Linked DNA regions of Homo sapiens: region 2 is linked to region 1. The links come from fine-mapping of genetic effects on gene expression. A gene starts in region 1. The other region holds a variant in brackets. All regions are shown on one strand. Distances are from middle to middle. Region 1 holds the start of LINC02482 (long intergenic non-protein coding RNA 2482). Region 2 has its middle 10 kb from the start of MRFAP1.

Region 1 (8,000 bases):
CTCCTGCCATCCCACTGACATCCTATATAATGATGTTCCTCTTTACAAGTTTGCTAAAGCAAATTTAACAATCCCAGGGAAAATTTTTTTAAAAAAGGAAATGTATTTAACTGTAAGCGCGCTTGCCTTACCCGAGACACAAGACTCAAAGACAGGTCTCCCGAAGGATCCCCCATTCCCCCCGCCCCATTTCCATCCACGGGCGGCCTCTGCAGCCCACGCTGGGCCCCTGGCCTGTTTCGTGTTCCCCATGCTTGAGGTGCTGTTTGTGTAGCTGTGCCCATGCTTCCGCTCAGAGCAAGTCAGTGGGTCTGAGGGGACTCCTCCCTAAGTCCTCCCACCAGACACAGCGTAAGCACCTCTTTGCCTGTGAAAGTCCTTGTTTACATCTGCAGTCCCAGATGAATTTCTATTAATAGAGCCACCCTTCACTTTCAAAAGTGGCCCAGTTTGTTTGACAAATGGTACTAAATAGGTGCTCAGGTCCCGAGCCTCAGAGCCATTGCTGAATCCTCTCATGTCCACAGGCAGGCCCTCGGCACTTTCCCAACGCAGTCCACACCCGTCCCCATCCACACAGCGCGTGCTCCACTCTCCACGCTGCCTCCCACTCTTGTCCTGGTCCCCCACTGTCAGGCCTGAGCACAGCAGCCACCACCTCAGATGGTCAGCTCCCATCGCTCCTCTGCTGGCAACCCCCCACCAGCTTCACATCCACCCACTTCTCCCTCTGACCTCGGTGCCCACCACTTCCTCCCTTCCCACTGGGGTTTCATGCTGCCTCACCTTTTTACCCTACTTGTTCCCCGTGCCTAGAAGACTCTTTCCCCAGACACCCATGCACATTCCACACATCAGCCTTCACTCAAATGTCATATCAGACATGTTACCTGACCATGCAAATCAACTAGAAATCCCACACCCTATCCCCCAATGCCATTTTTTTCCCCCACAGAACTTACACTATTTAATATGGGTACATATCATTTTTTTCCTGCTTCCCTCATTTAGGGGTTATCTAACAAATACTTAGGAAACACTTACTATAGCCAGACACAATTCTAAGCATCTTATGAATAACAAATCCAACTTTTTTTTTCTATTAGAGACAGGGTCTCACCATGTTGCCCAGGCTGATCTCAAACTCCTGGCCTCAAGCAATCCTCCTGCTCAGGCCTCCTAAAGAAATGGGATTACAGGCATGAGCTACCATGCCTGGCCCTCAGATCCAATTTTACAAGCACTTTGTTCACTCAGGTAGTCTCAGCATCTGTAGGTGCTCAATTTATGCGTTGAATCAAAGACCAGCATTGCGGACACTGTACTGTAATTGTGTTTTCAGACCTGTCTCAACCCACTAGATCGTCTCTCCAAGAAATTCCTAGTGCCTGGCATAGTGTGGAGCTCTGTGGTCACAGTGAACACTAGCTGCCTGAATGGACTTCACCTCTCCAAAGGCTGGGGCCAGACCATATGGCTTCATGAGGCACCCCTTTCCTACTCTAGGTCTGCCTTCTTCTTCTTCTGCAGCTCAAACCCCACCCTGGGCTACAGGCTTTGAACAACTCGTGAGTCAGAAGCAATTCTCCTCCATTTGACAGTGACCACTATCAAGGAGAAACTCATTTTGAAAAATGTTTATTTACCTTACCTTTTCTTGGCCAAGTCAATTGCTTTGGTCATCTGCACAAAGATTCTAAACACTGGCTTTCAGCATTTCTTTTTCCAAGCAAATGAAATTTATCATAACAAGACAGAGCTCTGATTTTAGTCTCTGTGGAGTCTGGGCTCTGATGACCTAGGCTAGTCATCATCTAAGCCTGGAATGACTGTTTGGGACCCCCATGGCCAGCTTGAAGCTTTCCTTCCTCAGCCACTCTGGGCCCCTGAAGAGGTCACATGCATCTGTGGCAGAGACTGTATTATAACAAAGTTGTTTACCCCAAAGTCAGCAAACACATGTACCTAGAACTCATCCCAATTGTAGGTTGCTCACCAGACAGGTTACACGATGTGCACCAGTTAACATGCCATAGGAAAATTACATTCCAAGAAAAAGCAAAATGCTATAAAAACAAAAAAAACAAAACACCCAAAACAGCTCTCCCTCCTTTGATCTGATGGTCTGCAGAGGTCCTCAAATCCACACACTGCCACTCTTCAAGACCAACCGTCCACTGGGCCTTCTTAATCTCATCCAAAGTCGCATTCACAACTTTGACAGGAGCTTGGGTTCTTCATGTGGCAGCTGCAACCATGTAGTGTCTTCTCACTTGCAGAACTCTAACCTCAAGTCTCTCATGAGTCCCCAAATTCCAGGAAGCATAAAAAAACAGCAAAGCACACGAGTATACTTCCAAACTTTGAAAATACAATAAGATCACAGGAACAAATATGACCACGCAGCAGCGTACGTACTGTATAGGCCATATTCCTTTACGTGGGACATTAATGAAAAGCTGTCTTTTCCAAACTGAATGCGCCTATTAATAAAAAAATACACCTGACCATCTAATGCTGAAGTCATCCGCCAGGATGGTACTGGAAATTGAGTGGCTAATGTGGAGAAAACGCAGGCAGAAAAACAGGGGAGACAAAACGAAAGGCTCTCTTGGTTTGAGCCTGTCCAAGCAGCCACGACTCCTTATCAGGTGAACACAGTTCGTCAGTTGGCCACCTAAAGTACAAGTGGGAGAAATTCATCATCACAACATAAATTTTGAGCTTGATATTCTCATATCCGGGAGTCAAACAAACCCAACCACCTGTGCACAATGCTTCCACCTGCAGGAAGGTCATCGCAAACGCTCCAATCTCGTAACAACATTCACACGTTTCCAGCATGTACCTCCGCTTCACACCTCTCTCCCCCCACGTAGTGACCCACCAGGTCTACGTCCTGAAAATACTTCCAGTGGTCATGACTCTTTACAACAACATATCAAATTATTTTCTCTAATTACCTATGAAAAAAGAATGAAACCAACTCCGCGGAGAGCGTGGCACGGCTCTGCGCTCCCCTCCCTGCCTACCCAGCGCCTTCCACGCGGGACACTCCCCGCCGCGCTCCGCTCCAGACCCGCGCGGCCTCGCCGGCTCAGCAGCACTCGCAGCCGGCGATCCGCTGGTGCAGCTCCACGATCCGCCTGCCCATCCGCGCCGCCTCCGCAGCCTTCCTCTCTGCTTCGGCGCACAGCCGAGCCACCCGCTCCTCAGCCTCCGCACGCGGGCGGGGTGCTGGGGCCCGGGCGCCCCGCTCCTCTGCCTCCACCTCACTCTTGATGGCGTCGAGCAGGCTCTGGATCTCCAGCAGCTTCCTGCGGGCCCGCCAGTGCGCCCGGGCGCGCTCGCGCTCCAGGGAGGCCAGGTTCTCGCGGCCGGCGCGGGGCGCGGGGCTCAGCGGGCTGCCCGGCTCCTCGCGGGGCTCCCGCGCCTCGTCCGCGTCCACGGGCCGCATCACGCCGCCGCCTCTTCCAGCCCGCGGGGCACGCCGGGGCTGCTCACCAGCAGCGAGCGCGGAAGCCTCGCTGTCACCAACGACCAGACTAGCAACAGGTTGCCCCAACTTTCCGCAGCGAGGACGGTATCCAAAATGGGCTACTAGCCGTCGGCCAGGACGCTGCCACTGCGGCCCTTTTACGACACCTGCGGTCCTTTACCGCCACGCAGCAAGCGAGAACCGCATTCGGGGCTCCCGCCTCAGCGGTCCTGCGCGCGCACGCGCACTTGCACGCACGCGTACCCCCCCGCACGCATGCGCACCCCATGTCCCCGCCCGCTGTAGCGCCACAGCTCTTTGGGCGTTGATTCTAGGGTCAGGGCCCTCACTCACACTGCTGGAAGGTTAAAGTCGACTTCACGCTAGTTTAAGGAAATATCTGACGCTGATAACCATGTCCCAAGCACTGCTCTAAGTTCCCAATGTGTCCGGAATTGGTGGGTTCTTGGTCTCACTGACTTCAAGAATGAAGCCACGGACCCTCGCGGTGAGTGTTACAGCTCTTAAAGTGGCGCGTCTGGAGTTTGTTCCTTCTGATGTTCGGATGTGTTCGGAGTTTTTTCCTTCTGGTGGGTTCGTGGTCTCGCCGGCTCAGGAGTGAAACTGCAGACCTGTTACGGCTCATAAAGGCAGTGTGGACCCAAAGAGTGAGCAGCAGCAGGATTTATTGCAAAGAGAGAAAGAACAAAGCTTCCACAATAGAAGGGGACCTGAGCCGGTTGCCACTGCTGGCTCCGGCAGCCTGCTTTTATTGTCTTATCTGGCCCCACCCACATCCTGCTGATTGGTAGAGCCGAGTGGTCTGTTTTGACAGGGTGCTGATTGGTGCGTTTACAATCCCTGAGCTAGACACAAAGGTTCTCCAAGGCCCCAGCAGAGTCGATTGGTATATTCACAAACCCTGAGCTAGACACACGGTGCTGATTGGTGTATTTACAATCCCTGAGCTAGACATAAAGGTTCTCCACATCCCCACCAGACTCAGGAGCCCAGCTGGCTTCACCAAGTGGATCCCACACCAGGGCTGCAGGTGGAGCTGCCTGCGAGAACGGCACCGTGCGCCCACACTCCTCAGCCCTTGGGTGGTGATGGGACTGGGCGCCGTGGAGCAGGGGGTGGTGCTCGTCGAGGAGGCTCGGGCAGCACAGGAGCCCATGGAGGGGGTGGGAGGCTCAGGCATGGCGGGCTGCAGGTCCCGAGCCCTGCCCCTCGGAAAGGCAGCTAAGGCCCGGTGAGAAATCGAGCACAGCGCCGGTGGGCTGGCACTGCTGAGGGACCCAGTACACCCTCCGCAGCCGCTGGCCCGGGTGCTAAGCCCCTCATTGCCGGGGGCTGGCAGGGCCAGCCGGCTGCTCCGAGTGCGGGGCCCACCAAGCCCACGCCCACCCTGAACTCCAGCTGGCCCGCAAGCGCCGTGTGCAGCCCCGGTGCCCGCTCGCGCCTCTCCCTCCACACCTCCCTGCAAGCTGAGAGAGCCGGCTCTGGCCTTGGCCAGCCCAGAAAGGGGCCTCCACAGTGCAGCAGTGGGCTGAAGGGCTCCTCAAGTGCTGCCAAAGTGGGAGCCCAGGCAGAGGAGGCACCGAGAGTGAGCGAGGGCTGTGAGGACTGCCAGCACACTGTCACCTCTCACCAACATTCTAAATCATAAACACCCAGGCCGGGCGTGTGGCTCACGCCTATAATCCCAGCACTTTGGGAGGCTGAGGTGAGAGGATCGCTTGAGCTCAGGAGTTCCATACCAGCCTGGGCAACAAGGGAAAAAACCCTACCAAAAAAAACACAAGAAATTAGCTGGGCGTGGTGGCGCGTGCCGATAGTCCCAGCTACTTGAGAGGCTGAGCCGGGAAGATTGCTTGAGCCCAGCAGGTCGAGACCGAGGTGAGCTCTGAACGCCTGATTGCGCCACTGCACCCCAGCCCAGTGACAGGGCGAGACCCTGTCTCAAAATAAATAAATAAAAATAATAAACAACCGAATTCAGTGGTCCCGTTAGAATATTCCAGGCTCCGAGAAGCCAGGTGCTCACAGCGTCGGGATTTGCCCCCAGCCAGGGCCTCCGCTCCCTCTTGCCTCGGGCAGATGCTCCTGGAACACAGAGCTGCGGCCTCGGTGCTGATGCTGAGTGCTGTGACCCAGCCTCCCCCTACTTTTTTCCTAAGGGTATAAGCTTCACTCTGCCTGGGGCTTTGGCTGTAAGTTGGAGTCTGGCTTTACCCACTGTGGGCACCCAAGGCCAAGGTGGGTCTGATTCACCACTGTTTCCTCAGCCCTGCCAGGCTCTGAATATGCCTTTAGGAATCATTCTGGAAGATTTCTTTCTTCACTGGACTATATAAGTGCCTCTGCGAGAAAACAGGCCCTAGGGGCAGGTACTTAGTCAGTTTAGTCATCTGTTTCCTCAGCTTGAAATGGGCTTGGCATACAGCAGGAGCCCAGTAAATGTTGCTTTAATGCTCATTTCCCAAGAGATCTTTATTAAGCACCCACTGCATGTCATTGTGTCTAGGCTTATTCACTGTGTACCTCTAGCAGAAAGTTAAGGGGACCCTCCATGCTTGATGGCCAGAGGTCACTCTCAGCTCCTACAGGTCACTCTCCGGTCCTTAAACGTGGCCCTCTCCATCTTCAAAGCCAGTAAGAGCATGTCGGATCCTTCTTATCCTTCCAGCCTCTCTGTCATCCCCTTCTGCTCCCAGCTGGAGAAAACTCTGCTTTTAAGGGGCTTGCCATGGTCCAAATATGTGAGTCCCCCCAAAATTCATATGTTGCAAAGCAATCCCCAATGTGATGATATTAGGAGGTGGGGTCTTTGGGAGGTGATGTGGTCATGAAGGCTCAGCTTTCATGAATGAGATTAGCACCCTCATAAAACAACTCCACAGGGCCGCCTTACCCCTTCTGCTGTGGGAGGTTATAGCAAAAAGATGGGCTTCTATGAACCAGAAGTGGGCCCTCACCAGGCACCAAACCTGCTGGCACCGTGATCTTGTACTGCTCAGCCTTCAGAACTCAGAAAATACATTTCTGTTGTTTAGAAGACACCCAGTTTCTGGTATTTTGTTAGAGCAGCGTGAACGGACTAAAATAGTGCTTATGTGGTTGTGTAACAGCATCGATTCCATGTTAAAGAACAATTTTGCTTGCTCAATTATAATTATTGCTTTGCTTAAGTTTTAGACTATGCTAAAAACAGCCTCAGGACCTTCAGCACTGATCAACAATCCTGGGCATGGGCTGACCGACAGTTTTCACCCAGAGAGTGAAGATCATGGAGGAGCCATCTTAAATTCTGCCCAGCGCAGGCTCCCAGGAATCCTAATGTCACGATCTCACTGCAGCCAATGTGACAAACACAGCAGTAATTAAGTCTAGAGAGCTAAACACACCTCAAAAAGAATTGTCTCTTGGTATGAGTGGAATGGAATAAAATACATGGAAACCCACAAAAGTTTCGAGGTGAACATATTAGCAAAAATGCTCTAGCTTATCCAAGCGACAGTTCAAAGTGTCAAAGGACTTCTAGACTCCCAATCTTTCCACCGGCAGAAAGCAGGCTCAGTAGCCCAAACTGGCGCATTTTAAAATGCCCTTTTCAGAAGTGTGATGGAAAAAGAAGGATGTGTCAGTGCAGGCCAGTGTGTGGGGACCAATGGCAAACTGCAGCTCCTGAACTAAGAAAGACTTTCATATCTTTAAAAAAGAAAAGGAGAAATAGGAATATGTGATAGAGACTGTATGTGGCCCACAAAGCCTAACATATTTACTGTTTAGATCTTTACAGAAAATGTTTGCCAACTCCTGTGCTGCTGAGCCACTTCCAGGTTGCAGAACCAAAGCCTTACATTCCCTAGCTTTAAAGTAGAGGACCTGGCAATGTTTACTCCACCGAGTTTCAAAATAGCTATGTGACTGCTATTTCACCCCTTCATTCTTCCCTTACCAATGGGCCTTATCCTGTCCCTGTCTCATCACTGAATGTTGGGTCTAAGTGGACAATAACTTGTCTTTTCAAAAAGTGCATAAGCTTCTAGACCAATAAAAGCCATATTAGGACCTGATGTGGCTCACAAGATGCTAGACTTCTTGCTTGAGGCCATGATTGGAAGAAAGTAGGAAGGGGGTCCTTAGATGGGGGTGGGCAATTTTTCCATGAATAATGGGGGCAGTGGGCACAGATGATGGTAGGTAGTATAAATGACCCCAATTCCCCACCCCTTCATTCATCCATGTTCTCTGCCTCATGTCTTGCTTTGGCCAATGAGAGGTTCACAGAGAGGACACAAGCACAGGTTTGAAAGAGGCTTTCGCGGTTGGACTCGCTTTCCTCTGCGTCTCTGCCTTCGCTATGAGAAGAACGGGCACCGGTCTTGGGAAGATGGTGAGAGAAACACAGAACCAAGCTGCTCTAGACAGGCCTAGCCTAGACCAGGTGGCCCGCAGACCATTACTGAGCCCAGCCTGGATCATCCAACTCCCAGCCAAACTGCAGACCATGAGGAAT
Region 2 (15,279 bases), 23 kb after region 1:
CACGTCAGGCAGGAGAACAGGGTCTGGAGGTAGGGAACTTAAGGCAGATTCCTGCTGACTTCCTAAAGCTGAATCAAGGGAAAACACCAAGGTCTGGGGCAGAGAATCTGAGGCTGATTAACTCAAACTTCCCAAACCAAAAGGAAAAGCACCATCTCCCCATTGGGAGTAGTAAAGCATCAAAGGCTACTCTCCCTACAAGCCTCCTCCCAGATGGAAAGGGAGCGTGCCTTGGAGTGGCCAAGAGCCATGCAGGGACCGTCCCTTCATCCGCATAGGGCGCCAGTTCACCCCAGCCTTTAGCCACAAACCAAAACCTTCATCCACATAAGAGGTAGCTGGTAAGAACCTCAAATGAAGTACTTAAAGCCCAGAAAACTTTCTAACTGGCCCTTGAGCTGCTTGCTCGGGCCCGCTCCCACCCTGTGGGTGCTTTCTCGCTTTAAGAAATTGCTGCTTTCCCTGCTTCTGTTCCTGCGTTTCATTCCTTTGTTACTTTGTTTGTGCGTTTTGTTCAATGCTTTGTTCAAAAGGCCAAGGACCAGGACAACCCACTCAAGGCCCTCCTCACGGTAACGCAAGGCCACAGCGCCGCCGCCCCTTCCCGCCCCGGGCCAGCCGGGCACCCACCAGCCGTGCGCGGACACCTCGCTGTCACCCGCGACAAGTTCTTGAAGTTCCTTTTTAGTTTAGATAAAATTTTACTCTAAAACTTTCAGCCCTGAAACAGCGAAGGCCACACCCAAATGGCCTTCCCGCTGCCAGCCGCCGCGGGGCCTCCTCGAAGCTCCTTTCACGGCAGCTCCAGGTTGCCACGCGCCCACGGGGGTTTCGGGCGGGGTCCCGTATCGTGCAGGCGCCATGGCGCGCTCTCGTCCCCCTTCCCCCACGCGCCCTCGCCTGCGCGGGCTCTGGGGTGGAGTCTGAGAGGGATTCCAGGGTTGGGGTTTTAACACTCAGTTGCGAGTGATTTTTGCACCAGAAACGGAAGGTTGCACCGAATACCGTGACCCAGGGCCACGAAACCCACGGCTGCACCTCAAACCGTCCCCGCCTCGCCAGGGAACCGCTGGCTTGTCTCCGCCGGCCCGACACAGGCCAGGCGAGGTTTTTGGAAACAAAATTGTTACCAAACAGTGGCATTTCCCAGGACAGCTCTTTGAAGGTAGAATCTGTCCGCACGTCTCCGCCAGGGTTGGCTGCCCAGCAGGGGCTCGGTACATTTTGTTTACCCTAAAGAATGCTGTCTGGAGGGGGTAGAAGATATGTTAAGGCCGGGCACGGTGGCTCAGGCCTGTAATCCCAGCACTTTGGGACGCCGAGGTGGGCGGATCACCTGAAGTCCGGAGTTTGAGACTAGCCTGGCCAGCATGGTGAAACCCCGTCTCTACTAAACGTACACAAATTAGCTGGGGGTGGTGGCGCATGCCTGTAGTCCCAGCTACTCGGGAGGCTGAGGCAGGAGAATCGCTTGAACCCGGGAGGCGGAGGTTGCAGTGAGCTGAGATCCAGCCATTGCACTCCAGTCTGGGTGACTAGCCTGAGACTTTGTCTAAAAAAAAAAAAAAAAAGATACGTTTATATTCCTGGTCTGTGGCCCACAAACGGGCTAATGGTAAAGACTGGGGAGACCCTGCTTGCACAAGTGCCCCTGATTGGAAACTCAGTTCTCTAGGGGTGAAATGGAGCTGGTAGGCCCCTGTGACTGTGAGAGAAGTGAGAAAAAAAGGCATGACAGTGCATTGTACAGTTGCCAAAACACCAGGCAGAGGCAGGTGGCATCGCTACTATGACAGTCATTAGACTACACAGTGCATTCAGAGTCGTGTGGGAACTACATCCAATATTCGGACCCTGGCTTCACAACCTGCTGGCTGGGGGACTGAGGGCCAATCAGCCTGAGGGTAGCTCTCTTGGCCTGTGCCACCACCTGAACTTAGTGGAGTTGGGTACCATCACCTCTAGGGAGGTGTGGCAGGCAGAGTGACCCCCATAGAAGTCCACATCCTAATCCCTGGAACCTGTGATTGTGTTATAAATTATATGACATATTTTGTAATTACGAATATATCATATTACATGGCAAAATGGATTTTGCTCATGTAATTAAAGTTAAGGGTCTTAAGGAGAATGAATAGCCTGGATTATCCAGGTAGGCCCAGCCTAATCCTGAGTCCTTAAAGTGAAAAACGCTCCTAGGCTGGAGTCAGAGATAGAAAACGAAGGCAGAAGAGAGATTTGGCAGAAGAAATCCGTGCTATTCCAAGCAGGAGATGACTGGTCCTGCCTGTGCTGACTCTGAGATGTGGGGGGTTTGGACCCTAGCTTCACAGCTTTGTGGCTGGGGCGGGGCGGGGCGGGGGGTTGGACAATGAGGAGGATTTGACAAACCACTGCTGGTTTTGAGACACAGGTGGCCACATGAAAGGACAGGAGGGAGGCCTCCAGGAGCTAAATGTGGCCCCCAGCTGAAGCCCAGCCTGCAACCACAAGGAACTGGATTCTGCCAGCAACCTGAATGCACTTAGAAGCGGTTTCTCTCTGGAGCCTCCTGATAGGAGCCCAGCCAGCCAACACCTTGATTTTGGCCTTGTGAGACCTAGAGCAGAGAAACCTTCTAAGCCATTCGTGACTTCTGACCTTCAGGACTATGATGATAAATGTGTGTTATTTTGAGCTGTTAATTTGTGATAATTTGTTGTAGCAGCAGTTGAAAACTTGAAGCTTAGTCTGCAGAAAGTCTAAGGATGGATAAAAATGAATGAAGACCCTCAAAGCCGTGCCCCCACCTTATTATTCTCCTCTGGGTTCTCCTAACCCTAATTCTAACCCTATCTTCTTTTTTTTTTTTTATACTTTAAGTTCTAGGGTATGTGATCACAACTTGCAGGTTTGTTACATATGTATACACGTGCGATGTTGGTGTGCTGCACCCATTAACTCGTCATTTACATTAGGTATATCACCTAATGCTATCCCTCCCCTCTCCCCACCAACCCCACAATAGGCCCCAGTGTGTGATGTTCCCCTTCCTGTGTCCAAGTGTTCTCATTGTTCAATTCCCACCTATAAGTGAGAACATGCGGTGTTTGGTTTTTTGTCCTTGTGATAGTTTGTTGAGAATGATGGTTTCCAGTTTCATCCATGTCCCTACAAAGGACATGAACTCATCCTTTTTTATGGCTGCATAGTATTCCATGGTGTATATGTGCCACATTTTCTTAATCCAGTCTATCATTGATGGACATTTGGGTTGATTCCAAGTCTTTGCTGTTGTGAATAGTGCTGCAATAAACGTATGTGTGCATATGTCTTTATAGCAGCATGATTTATAATCCTTTGGGTATATACCCAGTAATGGGATTGCTGGGTCAAATGATATTTCTAGTTCTAGATCCTTGAGAAATAGCCACACTGTCTTCCACAATGGTTGAACTAGTTTATAGACCCACCAACAGTGTAAAGGTGTTCCTATTTCTCCACATCCTCTCCAGCACCTGTTGTTTCCTGACTTTTTAATGATCGCCATTCTAACCGGTGTGAGATGGTATCTCATTGTGGTTTTGATTTGCATTTCTCTGATGGCCAGTGATGATGAGCATTTTTTCATGTGTCTGTTGGCTGCATAAATGTCTTCTTTTGAGAAGTGTCTGTTCATATCCTTCGCCCACTTTTTGATGGGGTTGTTTGTTTTTTTCTTGTAAATTTGTTTGATTTCTTTGTAGATTCTGGATATTAGCTCTTTGTCAGATGAGTAGATTGCAAAAATTTTTTCCCATCCTGTAGGTTGCCTGTCCACTCTGATGGTAGTTTCTTTTGCTGTGCAGAAGCTCTTTAGTTTAATTAGATCCCATTTGTCAATTTTGGCTTTAGTTGCCATTGCTTTTGGTGTTTTAGACATGAAGTCCTTGCCTATGCCTATGTCCTGAATGGTATTGCCTAGGTTTTCTTCTAGGGTTTTTATGGTTTTAGGTCTAACATTTAAGTCTTTAATACATCTTGAATTAATTTTTGTATAAGGTGTAAGGGAGGGATCCAGTTTCAGCTTTCTCCATATGGCTAGCCAGTTTTCCCAGCACCATTTATTAAATAGGGAATCCTTTCGCCATTTCTTGTTTTTGTCAGGTTTGTCAACGATCAGATGGTTGTAGATGTGTGGTGTTATTTCTGAGGGCTCTGTTCTGTTCCATTGGTCTGTATCTCTGTTTTGGTACCAGTACCATGCTGTTTTGGTTACTGTAGCTTTGTAGTGTAGTTTGAAGTCAGGTAGCGTGATGCCTCCAGCTTTGTTCTTTTGGCTTAGGATTGACTTGGCAATGTGGGCTTTTTTTCTAACCCTATCTTTTTATACATTTTGGTGGATTCTCTTTAATATTTCCTCTAGAGTGTGTGTTGCAAATATCTTCTCCCAATTGAAGCTTGACTATTTTCTTTTAAATGGACTTTATTTTTTAGAACAGTTTTAGGTTTATAGAAAAATCGAGAAGATAGCACAGAATGCAGCTCAACTTTTCACTTTGATGATGGTTCCTTTGATTAGCACCATATTTTAGCTTAAAAATTGACTGCAAAAAAGTAAAATAAATTTATTATAGTAAAATATGCATAGTAGATTTACCATTTAACCATTTAAGGGTACAGTTCAGTGGCAGTAAGTCCATTCAAACTGTGCAACCATCACCACCATCTGCCTCAAGAACTTTTTCATCCTCCCAAACTGAAACTTTGTCCCCATTAAACATTAATTCCCCAATCCTCCCTCCCCCAGCCCCTGGCATCCACCATTCTACTTTCTGTCCCATGAATTGGACTGTTCTGGCTTCTTTAAAAATTGAGGTGAAATTAATGTAACATAATTACCCACTTTAAAGTGTACAATTAAGTGGTATTTAGTGTATTCACAATATTGTGTAACCACTAGCTCTCTCTAGTTTCAAAACTTTCTCATCTTTCTATAAAAATACCCAGTACTCAAGGCCAGGTGCGGTGGCTCACGCCTGTAATCCCAGCACTTTTAGAGGCCGAGGTGGGCCGATCACAAGGTCAGGAGTTCAGGACCAGACTGGCCAACGTGGTGAAACCCCGTCTCTACTTAAAATACAAAAATCAGCCAGTCGTGGTGGCGGGTGCCTATAATTCCAGCTACTTGGGAGGCTGAGGCAGGAGAATCGCTTGAACCTGGGAGGCGGAGGTTGCAGGGAGCCAAGATTGCATCATTGCACTCCAGCCTGGGCGACAGAGTGAGACTCCATCTCAAAAAAACAAAACAAAACAAAACCCAGTACTCATATAATAATCACTCCACATCCTGCCTCCCCTTACCCAATGGCCAATACTCATCTCCTTTCTGTCTCTGTGGATTTACCTGTCTGTACATATCATATGTGTTAGTCTGCTAGGGCTGCCGTAACAGAATACCACAGACTGGGTGTTTAAAACAACAAAAATCTACTTTCTCATGATTCTGGAGCCTGAAAGTTCAAGATCATGGTGCCAGCAGGGTTGGCTTCTCCTGAGGCCTCTCTCCCTGGCTTGAAGATGGCCTTTTCTTTTTCTTTCTTTCTTTCTTTCTTTTTTTTTTTTTTTAGACAAAGTCTGACTGTGTCACCCAGGCTGGAGTGCAGTGGTATGATCTTGGCTCACTGCAACCTCCGCCTCCCAGGTTCAAGCGATTCTCGTGCCTCAGCCTCCTGAGTACCTGGGACTACAGGCATGCCCCACCACACCAGCTAATTTTTGTATTTTAAGTAGAGACGGGGTTTCTCCATGTTGGCCAGGATGGTCTTGAACTCCTGACATCAGGTGATCTGCTGCCTCAGCCTCCCAAAGTGCTGGGATTACAGGCGTGAGCCACTGTGCCTGGCTATACTTTGTTAATTTTTATGGCTGAATAATATTTCTTTGTATGGCTATTCCGCAGTTTATGAATGAATGTTTATTCATTCATCAGTTGATTCTGTTGGTGGCCATTTGGGTTGTTTCTGCCTTTTGACTAGTATATGCTGCCATCAGCATTCATGTATAAGTTAAGATTTTAGTTTTGGTGAAGACAAAATATCAGTCTTTTCTGCTTTTTGCTTTTTGTCTTGTAAAGAAAGCCTTTCATGCTCTGAAGCCATACAAATTTTCCTTTAAGTTCTCTAAAGTATTTAGTTAGATAATTAGTTTTTTATATCTGTGGGTTACTCCATCTGAAAATAATTTTTTTGTGATGTTTGTGGCAGGGATCTAATTGCAGTTTCCCCCACATGTATAGCCATTTGTCCTAGCCCTACATGGTGACTGTTTTTGTTGTTGGTGGTGGTTTTTTTTTTTTTTTTTTTTTTTTGAGTCTTGCTGTGTCACCAGCCTGGTGAGATCTTGGCTCACTGCAATTTCCACCTCCCGGGTTCAAGCGATTCCCCTGCCTCAGCCTCCCAAGTAGCTGGGACTACAGGCATGTGCCACCATGCCCAGCTAATTTTTTGTATCTTAGTAGAGACGGAGTTTCACCACGTTGGCCAGGATGGTCTTGATCTGCTGACCTCGTGATCCGCCCGCCTCGGCCTCCCAAAGTGCTGGGATTACAGGCGTGAGCTACCGCGGTGGGCCCATGCTGACTGTTTTATCCATTCTTTCTGGGTTGCTGTGTAACGTGTGTCAGGTATCGTATGTCCATATTTGCTCATATCTGTATCTGGGCTGTATACTCTGTTCCACTGGTCTTTACCTATCTCTGGGCCATTACTCCATTGACTTAATTACTGTTAGCTTTATAATAAATATTAATATTTGGTAAAGTATAGCAAGGCCTCCCATCTGGTGCTACTGCAGGAATATCCTGGCTTTCTGCTTGTCCATCTAAATTTCAAATTTGTGAGTTCCCTGTGCTCCTCCCCACACCCACCAGACTCAAGAGATCTCCTGCCTCAGCCTCCAGAGTAGCTGGAATTACAGGTATTTGCCACCACATGCAGCTAATTTTTAAATTTTTTGTAGAGACTAGGTTTTGCCATGTTGCCCAGGCTGATCTTGAACTCCTGGGCTCAAGTGATATGCCTGCCTCCACCTCCCAAAGTGCTGGGATTACAAGTGTGAGCCATTATGCCCAGCCAAATTCATGGTTTTTATTTTTATTTTAGTTTTAGAGACAGGGCCTTGCTCTGTTGCCCAGGCTGGAGTGCAGTAGTGCAATCATAGCTCACTCCAGCCTGGAACTCCCAGGCTCAAGCAATCCTCCTGCCTCAGCCTCCTGAGTAGTTGGGACTACAGGCATGCACCACCACACACAGCTAATTTTTTTTTTTTTTTTGGTAGAGATGGGGTCTTACTATGTAGCCTAGGCTGGGTTTGAATTTTTGGCCTCAAGTGATCTTCCTGCCTTGGCCTCCCAACATGCTGGGATTACAGGCATGAGCCACTGTACTCAGCCCTCAAATTAATTTTTTTTGTAAATTCAACCCAAACAATCAAAACAGACCCATCTGAAGAGATTTTTATTGGGACTGCCTTGATTTGTGGGAGCAGTTTGGAGAATAATTATGATACTAATTTTCTTAATCTATTTTGTCATTATTTAATGTATTTCAACATAATTTTATGCATAATGGTTTTTCACATATTAAAAATTTAATATATACGAATATATATTTTCCAACCATTTGTACTGGGTTGAATAATGTCCCTGCAAAATTTTTCTGCCCAGAACCTTAGAATGTGACTTTATTGAAAATAGGTTCTTTGCAGACCTAGTTAAGATGAGGTTAGACTGGATGAGAGCGGGCTCTAAATGCAATGACTGGTGTCCTTCCATGAAGACAAAGGGAAGAAGGCCATGGGATAATGGAGGCAGACTGGACTGACGCAGCCACAAGCCAAGGAATGCCAAGAATTGCTGACAATTACCAGAAGCCAGGGAGAAGCAAGGAAAGATTCTTGCCCAGATGGTTCAGAGAGCCCATGGCCCTGCCAACACCTTAATTTTAGACTCCAGAACTATGAAAAAACAAATTTCTGTTTTAAGCCACTTAATTTGTGGCAGTTTGTTATGGTATCCCAAGGAAACACACCATTAAAAAAAAGTTTTTGGGTTCTATTATCAGTGGTACCTTTCAGAAAATATATTTCCTCTTCGTTCCCGGTAAAGAGAAACACTACTGATTTTTATTGATTTTTGTGTCTAGAAACCTTGAAACTCTAGAAACTATTATTAATGTTGGCAGTTTAGATTCTTTTGAATCTATGATGTCTCAGAGACATCATATCATGGGAATATAACTGATGCAGGACAAATTGGGGCTTAGCCTGGGAGGGTTCTTGGCTTCCTCCAGGAAGGAATTCAAGGGTGAGCCAGTGGTGGTAGACAGCAAGAGTTATTGATGCAGCAGTGCACAGTAGCAGCACAGGTGGTGTGCTCATAGGCAGTGAGCCCAGAGGAGCTGCTCAGGGCAGTTCTGCAGTCATATTTATGCCCACTTTTAATTACATGCAAATTAAGGGGTAGATGCCAGGTGCGGTGGCTCATGCTTGTAATCCCAGCATTTTGGGAGGCTGAGGTGGGTGGATTGCTTGAGATCAGGAGTTTGAGACCATCCTGGCCAACATGGTGAAACCCTGTCTCTACTGAAATACAAAAATTAGCTGGGTGTGAGGTGGCTCATGCCTATAATCCCAGCTACTAGGGAGGCTGAGGCAGGAGAATTGCTTGAACCCAGGAAGTGGAGGTTGCAGTGAACTGAGATCGTGCCACTGCACTCCAGCTTGGGTGACAGAGGGAGACTCTGTCTCAAAAAATAAAAAAAAAGTCTGGGTGTGGTGGCTCACTCCTGAAATCCCAGCGCTTTGGGAGGCTGAGGTGGGCAGATCATGAGGTCAGAGTTCGAGACCAGACTGGCCAACATAGTGAAACCCCGTTTCTACTAAAAATACAAAAAAATTAGCTGGACATGGTGGCAGGCACCTATAATCCTAGTTACTTGGGAGGCTGAGGCAGGAGAATCGCTCGAACCTGGTTGGCGGAGGTTGCAGTGAGCCGAGATCGCGTCACTGCACGCTAGCCTGGGCGACAGTGCAAGACTCTGTCTCAATAAAAAGAAAAAATAAATAAAGTAATACACTAAAAAAATTAAGGGGTAGATTATGCAGAAAGTTCTAGAAAAGAGGTGGTAACTTCTGTGTCATTGGGTCATCGCCATGGAAAGCGGCTGTAACTTCTGGGGGTTGCCATGGCAATGGTAAACTGATGGCACTGGTGGGCGTGTCTCATGGAGAGGCTTCCAACTCTTCCTTGTTTCAGCTAGTCTCAGTCTGGTCTGGAGTCTAAACCCTGCCTCCAGAGTCGAGTCCCGCCCCCTACCTCATAACGACAATAGTGGTGGTGGTTTTAAAAATACGTCCACATGATAAAAAGGAATTTGAAAAGATTAAAAAAATATGTCCACAATCTTCTTGCTACTCATCTCTTCAGTAGGTGGAGCATAATTCTTCTCTCCTGGAGTATGGGCTGGCTTGCTTCTAACACACAGAATAGGGAGGAAAAGGGAGGAATGGGAAATACATGGTGCCTATGGCCTTTGGGGATCATCAAAGGTCTTGCTCTCTAGCAGAAACTATTTTGCCTCCTTCCCTCTAGGTCCCTGGCTTTTGCCTCAGGGAGACTTTATTATCTATTATCTTCTCAGGCCTTGTATGAAATGTGCCTCAGAGGTTGCCCCCTCCAGGGGCTTTGCAGTTTCTGAAGCCTTCTTCATGCTGGTGCAGGTGCTGGGGCTCAGCACTTCCTTCAGGGGCTGAACAACCCCAAGTTTTAGCAGACTCACCTTGGAATTTCTTTGGCCATATATTTCCTTCAAAACCTTCGGATGACTTTGGGAGACTGAGGCAGGAGGATTGCTTGAGCCCAGGAGTCTGAGACCAGCCTGGGCAACGTAGGGAAACCGTATCTCTCTAAAAAATAAAAATAAAAAAATTAGCCAGGTGAGGTGGTACATGCCTGTGGTCCCAGCTACTGGAGAGGCTGAGGCAGGAGGATCGCTTGAGCCTGGGTGGTTAAGGCTGCAGTGAGCTGTGATCAGACCACTGCACTCCAGCTTGGGCAAAGCAAGACCCCATGTCTCAAAAAAACAAAAGGAAAACAAGAAATAAAAACACAAACAAGGGGGCCGGGCGCGGTGGTTCATGCCTGTAATCCCAGCACTTTGGGAGGCCGAGGCAGGCGGATCACGAGGTCAGGAGATCAAGACCATCTTGGCTAACATGGTGAAACCCCTTCTCTACTAAAATTACAAAAAATTAGCCGGGCGTGGTGGCGGCTGCCTGTAGTCCCAGCTACTCGGGAGGCTGAGGCAGGAGAACGGTGTGAACCCGGGAGGCAGAGCTTGCAGTGAGCCGAGATCATGCCACTGCACTCCAGCCTGGGCGACAATGCGAGACTCCATCTCAAAAAAAAAAAACAAACAAAAAAAACACCACAAACAAGACCCGCTCAGATGCTTCCTGCCTGTTTGCTGTCAGCCAGCCCCAATGTGCAGGCAGCCACAGCCCAAATCTTGTGAAGATGCCGGCATTTTCCTCACTGCGCTCTGTCCTTCCCCTGCTTTCCCAGTGGTGTCCCTGTGGAGCCAGTGTCCTTGACAGGAAGGTGACAGTCATCAGCTGGTGTTTGCCCACGTGACTGGCACTCACTTTCTGAGGAAGGAC[C/T]TTTACTGAAGATGCTTGAGAAAGGTTTGGGGCCTCAGTCTCATTTCCCTGTAAGATGGCTTCTTTTGGAGCCATCTCCCGTAACTCTTTGGGTTTGGGATGCAGAACCCCTTTCCTGTGAGGCCCCAAATGACCAGCAGTGGTGCCTCTCCAAGCTCATTCATAGAAGCTACTGCAGGAAGCACAGTTGAGTGACAGTCTCCAACTGCCACATCTTTGCCTCCATAGCGATCACACCAAGGCCATGCCTGTCCTCCCTCAAAGAGACTAAATTCAGGACTAAACTTACTAGCCTGTCACTGCTGTTTCTCCCATTGATGAACCAAGGAGAACTCAGCCTAGGACAAGTTTCCAGTGATGTTCTCCACTCCTCTTCACCCCCAAACCTGTTCCTGGGCCTCCAGCATGTGCCTGACTTCTTGGAGGAGCTCTGCCCTCCCCCGACCTTACCCCTGAGAATAGTGCTATTTCATCCTCAGGCCTGTGAGGGAAAAGCCACTCATTTCTATATGTCCCTCGTGTGTCAATCAGAATTTGGGGGCAGTGTTCTCCCAGGCCATGTCCACACTCTACTTCTCCTCCCTCTTGTCCAAAATGGTGCTCCTTGGGAGCACTCCCTGGTCATCTGACTGTCCTCTCCCTCTTCTCACCTCTGTCATCCTCCAATCTCTTTTCACCCCATTGGAGTCCCGTCATTCACTGCAAACTTGGGCACCTGGCTCCTGGCCTTCCCCTCCACCCCAAGCCCTGCCATCGTCCTGAGCGAATTCCATGCTCACACAGCCACCAGCCCCACACCTGGGCCCTCATATCCAAGGAGCTCCTCCACCCTGCTTGGCCATTCACTCCCAAGAGTGACTTGGGGCTTGTTATTGTCTCAGACCTGGCCTACTTAATATCTCTGTGCCTCATTGATAAGACGAGACTAATTTTAATAATGGCATCTGCCCCACTGAGGGGTCGTGAAAGGCTTTTGAGGAATTGTAGGTAACTGGCACATAGTAAATGCTTCACAGGTGTTAAAACAAGAATTGATCTGAGGCCCCAGAAGCACGTAGCTCGCAGGATGTCATCCACAGATACATTTTATTTGACAATCAGAGTTTTTAATATGATAAATTGCTTTCCAATATCAGCCCTCCTATTTTCTGGCCACATCCCATCCTCCAGGTGACACTTTCACTGTAGTCACTAACATGCTGGGATCTCCATTCACTTTACCAGCTACTTTCGCCTATTGCTCTCCTGCTCTTCACCTCCATACTTCCCCACTCAGAGTACATCATGTATTGTTGCAGTGATGTCCTTGTCAAAACCCTAAGCTCTTTTTTTCTTTTTTCACTCCTCTCTGGCAAAAATGCAGTCCTGATGAACGCAGTATCTGCCCCAGGCAGTGGGCAAGTGCTGTAAGGAACCATCACCAACAAGGCTACAGGGAAGCCCAGGGCTTGGGGAAAATCTAGTTTCAGCTGTTAAGAGTTGGTAAAGAAATGTTCTTTGAAGAGGCAAAGAATAATATGGATTAATTTGGGAATAATGGAATGCAGGATTTTGTGAACCATGGTATAGAGTTTGAAGGAGGAAGCAATGGGGATATAAACCAGTAAATAGGTACCACAGAACATTATGGAAATCAGAGACGGGGAAAAGAGAATTGACTCAGAGAGGGTCTAACATATGCTGGGCTGTGTATTAGTCTGTTCTCATGCTGCTATGAAGAAATACCCGAGACTGATAATTTATAAAGGAAAGAGGTTTAATTGACTCCCAGTTCCACATGGCTGGGGAGGCCTCAGGAAACTTACAATCATGGCAGAAGGGGAAGCAAACCTGTCCTTCTTCGTATGGCGGCAGGAAGGAGAAGTGCAGAGCAAAGGGGAAAAAGCCCCTTGTAAAACCATCAGATCTCGTGGAAACTCACTATCACAAGAACAGTATGGGGGTAACCACCCCATGATTCAGTGACCTCCCACCGGGTCACTCCCAGGACAAGATGAGATTTGGGTGGGGACACAGCCAAACCATATCAGGCAGTGACTGAAGCAGGCACTGGATGGATTTTGTAGATTTACCTGGCCACAGTGTTAACCAGGGTAATAAATCCCCATTTATCTCTGGAAGATGGTAGAAACTCAAGCCACTCCATGTTTACCTGCTGCCTGGAAGGGGGAGAATGGCCAGGAGTAGGAGTTTGAACTAGCGCTTTCTTTCACCTTGAAGTCATTAGAAGGCAGAGGAAAGTCAAGAGCTCCACGTGAAAGCCAGAGACAGAAGATAACCTGTTGGACAATGCCTGGGCTAGTGGGAGGGATGTGATCAACGGGCCTCAGGTAGAAGGGAGAACAACCCTTTCATCAAAACACAAGGAATGGAAGAAATAATGAATATCTGTATCAGTCATCTTAGTCTAAGTTGTTATTGTAACAAACAATCCCCAAATCTCAGTGGCTTAAAACAACTAAGGTTTTTCCTTGTTTGTGGTATATACTCATCATAGATTGGTAGGGAACTGTGGTCATTAAGCTCAGCCACCATCTGGAATGTTGCTGGTTCCTGTGCCAGAGGGAAGAGACAGCTCTGCAGGGTGTTGCTTTGGAGGTTCTGGGTTGGATGCAACAGATGTAAGTTTCCTTTGTAGCTCATCGGCCAGAATTAATCACGTGGGCCCACCCAACCCCAAGGGGGCCAGAAAGTGCCATCTTACTCTGTGCCTAGAAGGCAGAGAATTGGAATTTATTTGGTGAACAGCACTAATGACTTCTACATTTTAACCCAGAAAAGCTTCATTGCTCTCTGAGGTTATTTCCAGCTCTGCCATCCTGTAATACCAGGACTTTGGGAGGCCAAGGCAGGTGGATCACTTGAGGCCAGGAATTCAAGACCAGCCTGGCCAACATAGTGAAACCCTGTCTCTACTAAAAATGCCAAAATTAGCAGGGCATGGTGGCACCCACATGTAACCCCAGCTACGCGGGAGGCTGAGGCAGGAGAATTGCTTGAGCCCTGGGAGGCAGAAGTTGCAGTGAGCCAAGATCATGCCACTACACTCCAGCCTGGGCAACAGAGTTAGACCCTGTCTCAATAAATAAATAAACAAATAAATAAATATGGCAACTCCAGCCAGAAAATTTAATGACTGTACAGCCACGTAAGACTGTCTCTCAGAATGCTTCTTACCACATTCTTTGCTTAGAAAATGCAAGATTGGATTGCTCCTCCAATTGCTAGCAAGCCAGGAGTATGAAATTCAGGAGCTGGGGCAATTGGGAATTAGTGGCTGCATTGCAGTTGTGACCAGAATCATAAAAAAGAGGAACTAAGGAGTTACTGGAAAGATTTTAGGACAATAGTTTTCAAACTCTGGCATAAGAATGAACACTATGCAGCCTTAAAAAAAAAAAGAATGCAGATTTAGATGTTAGATAGGAAAAGACTTCCAAGTAAACAAATGAAGGACACGAACAGATTATACAGTGTGCTACCATTAATGTAAAAAACAAAACAAAACAAACAGGTGGCCTGGGCGCAGTGGCTCATGCCTGTATTGCTAGCACTTTGGGAGGCCAAGGTGGGTGGATGGCTTGAGCTCAGGAATTTGAGACCAAAATGGCCAAGATGGCAAACAACTGTCTACAAAAAATACAAAAATTAACCGCGGTGGTGTTCCAGTTACTCAGGAGGCTAAGGTGATCACTTGAGCCCAAGAGTTCAAGACCAGCCTGGACAAATAGCGAAACCCCACCTCCACAAAAAAAAAAAAAAAAAAATACAAAAATTAGCCAGAAATGGTGGTGTATGCCTGGTCCCAGCTACCAGGGAGGCTGAGGTGGGAGGATCACCTGACACCAGGAAGTCAAGGCTGCAGTGAGTGGTCACAACACTGCATTCCAGCCTGTGAGACACAGAGACCCTGTCTCACCAAAAACAAAAAAAAGTGGAAGCCGTTCAAACACATTAGTATTTGTAAGGATGTATAAGAAACTTCTAGTTTCCTGAGAGGGGAACTGGGAAGCTGGGGAGAGATGAAGGATCACTTTCGTGTCATTTATAAATCTTACTCATTGAAAACAATCGACTTCCCGATGCAATGTAGTATCCCAGAACAGAAAAAGGGCCTTAGTGGGGAAACTGGTGAAAGCAGAGAAAAGTCTAGTTGGTAGTGTTGTACCAATGTTACATTTCTTGTTTTGGCAAATGTACGAAATGTAGTTTTCGTGGTTGTTTCCCAGTTCATAATTCTGTCCTATACATTTCTTCTCCCTCCTCTGTGTGGAACTCACACAGAAAACCTTGAACATCTTCCATTGTTTCCTGTGCCTAGCATGCCTCTCCTGCTCTTCCTGACCTCGGAAGCTGTGCTCCTCTTTCAAGGCCAAGCTCTGAAAGAGTTACTTGCTCTGGAAAGCTTTCCTAGACCTCCCCCTCAAGTGTTCTCCTGGGACATTCTATCTTTATTAGTGCTAGGGACACATGGCTTTGTTTGATTTCTACCAACTAGGTTGCCCAGAAAGTGGACTCCAAGATGAAAACTAGATGCACGTTTTTTAGGGATTAACACTTGTGGAAGAGGAGGAATGCAAGGCTGGGACGGGGGAGGAGGTG

Evidence for each region.
Region 2: its variant is fine-mapped to the expression of LINC02482 in atrial appendage (GTEx, PIP 0.95).

Annotation. Positions count from the first base shown.
Region 1 is chr4:6,669,670-6,677,669 of GRCh38, reverse strand. It overlaps LINC02482 (long intergenic non-protein coding RNA 2482), which reads left to right and starts at 3,789. Exons shown (of 2, transcript NR_134665.1): 1 at 3,789-3,986; 2 at 6,677-6,942. MRFAP1L2 (Morf4 family associated protein 1 like 2) reads right to left here and starts at 3,595. Exons shown (of 1, transcript NM_138699.3): 1 at 1,623-3,595. The coding sequence starts at 3,457. The coding sequence ends at 3,098. RefSeq lists a silencer at 3,291-3,520 and an enhancer at 3,993-4,601.
Region 2 is chr4:6,643,371-6,658,649 of GRCh38, reverse strand. It overlaps the pseudogene LOC124900840. Among named protein-coding and RNA genes, the nearest start is that of MRFAP1, 10 kb to the right of the region's middle. The variant C/T (reference allele first, on the strand shown) is at 10,678.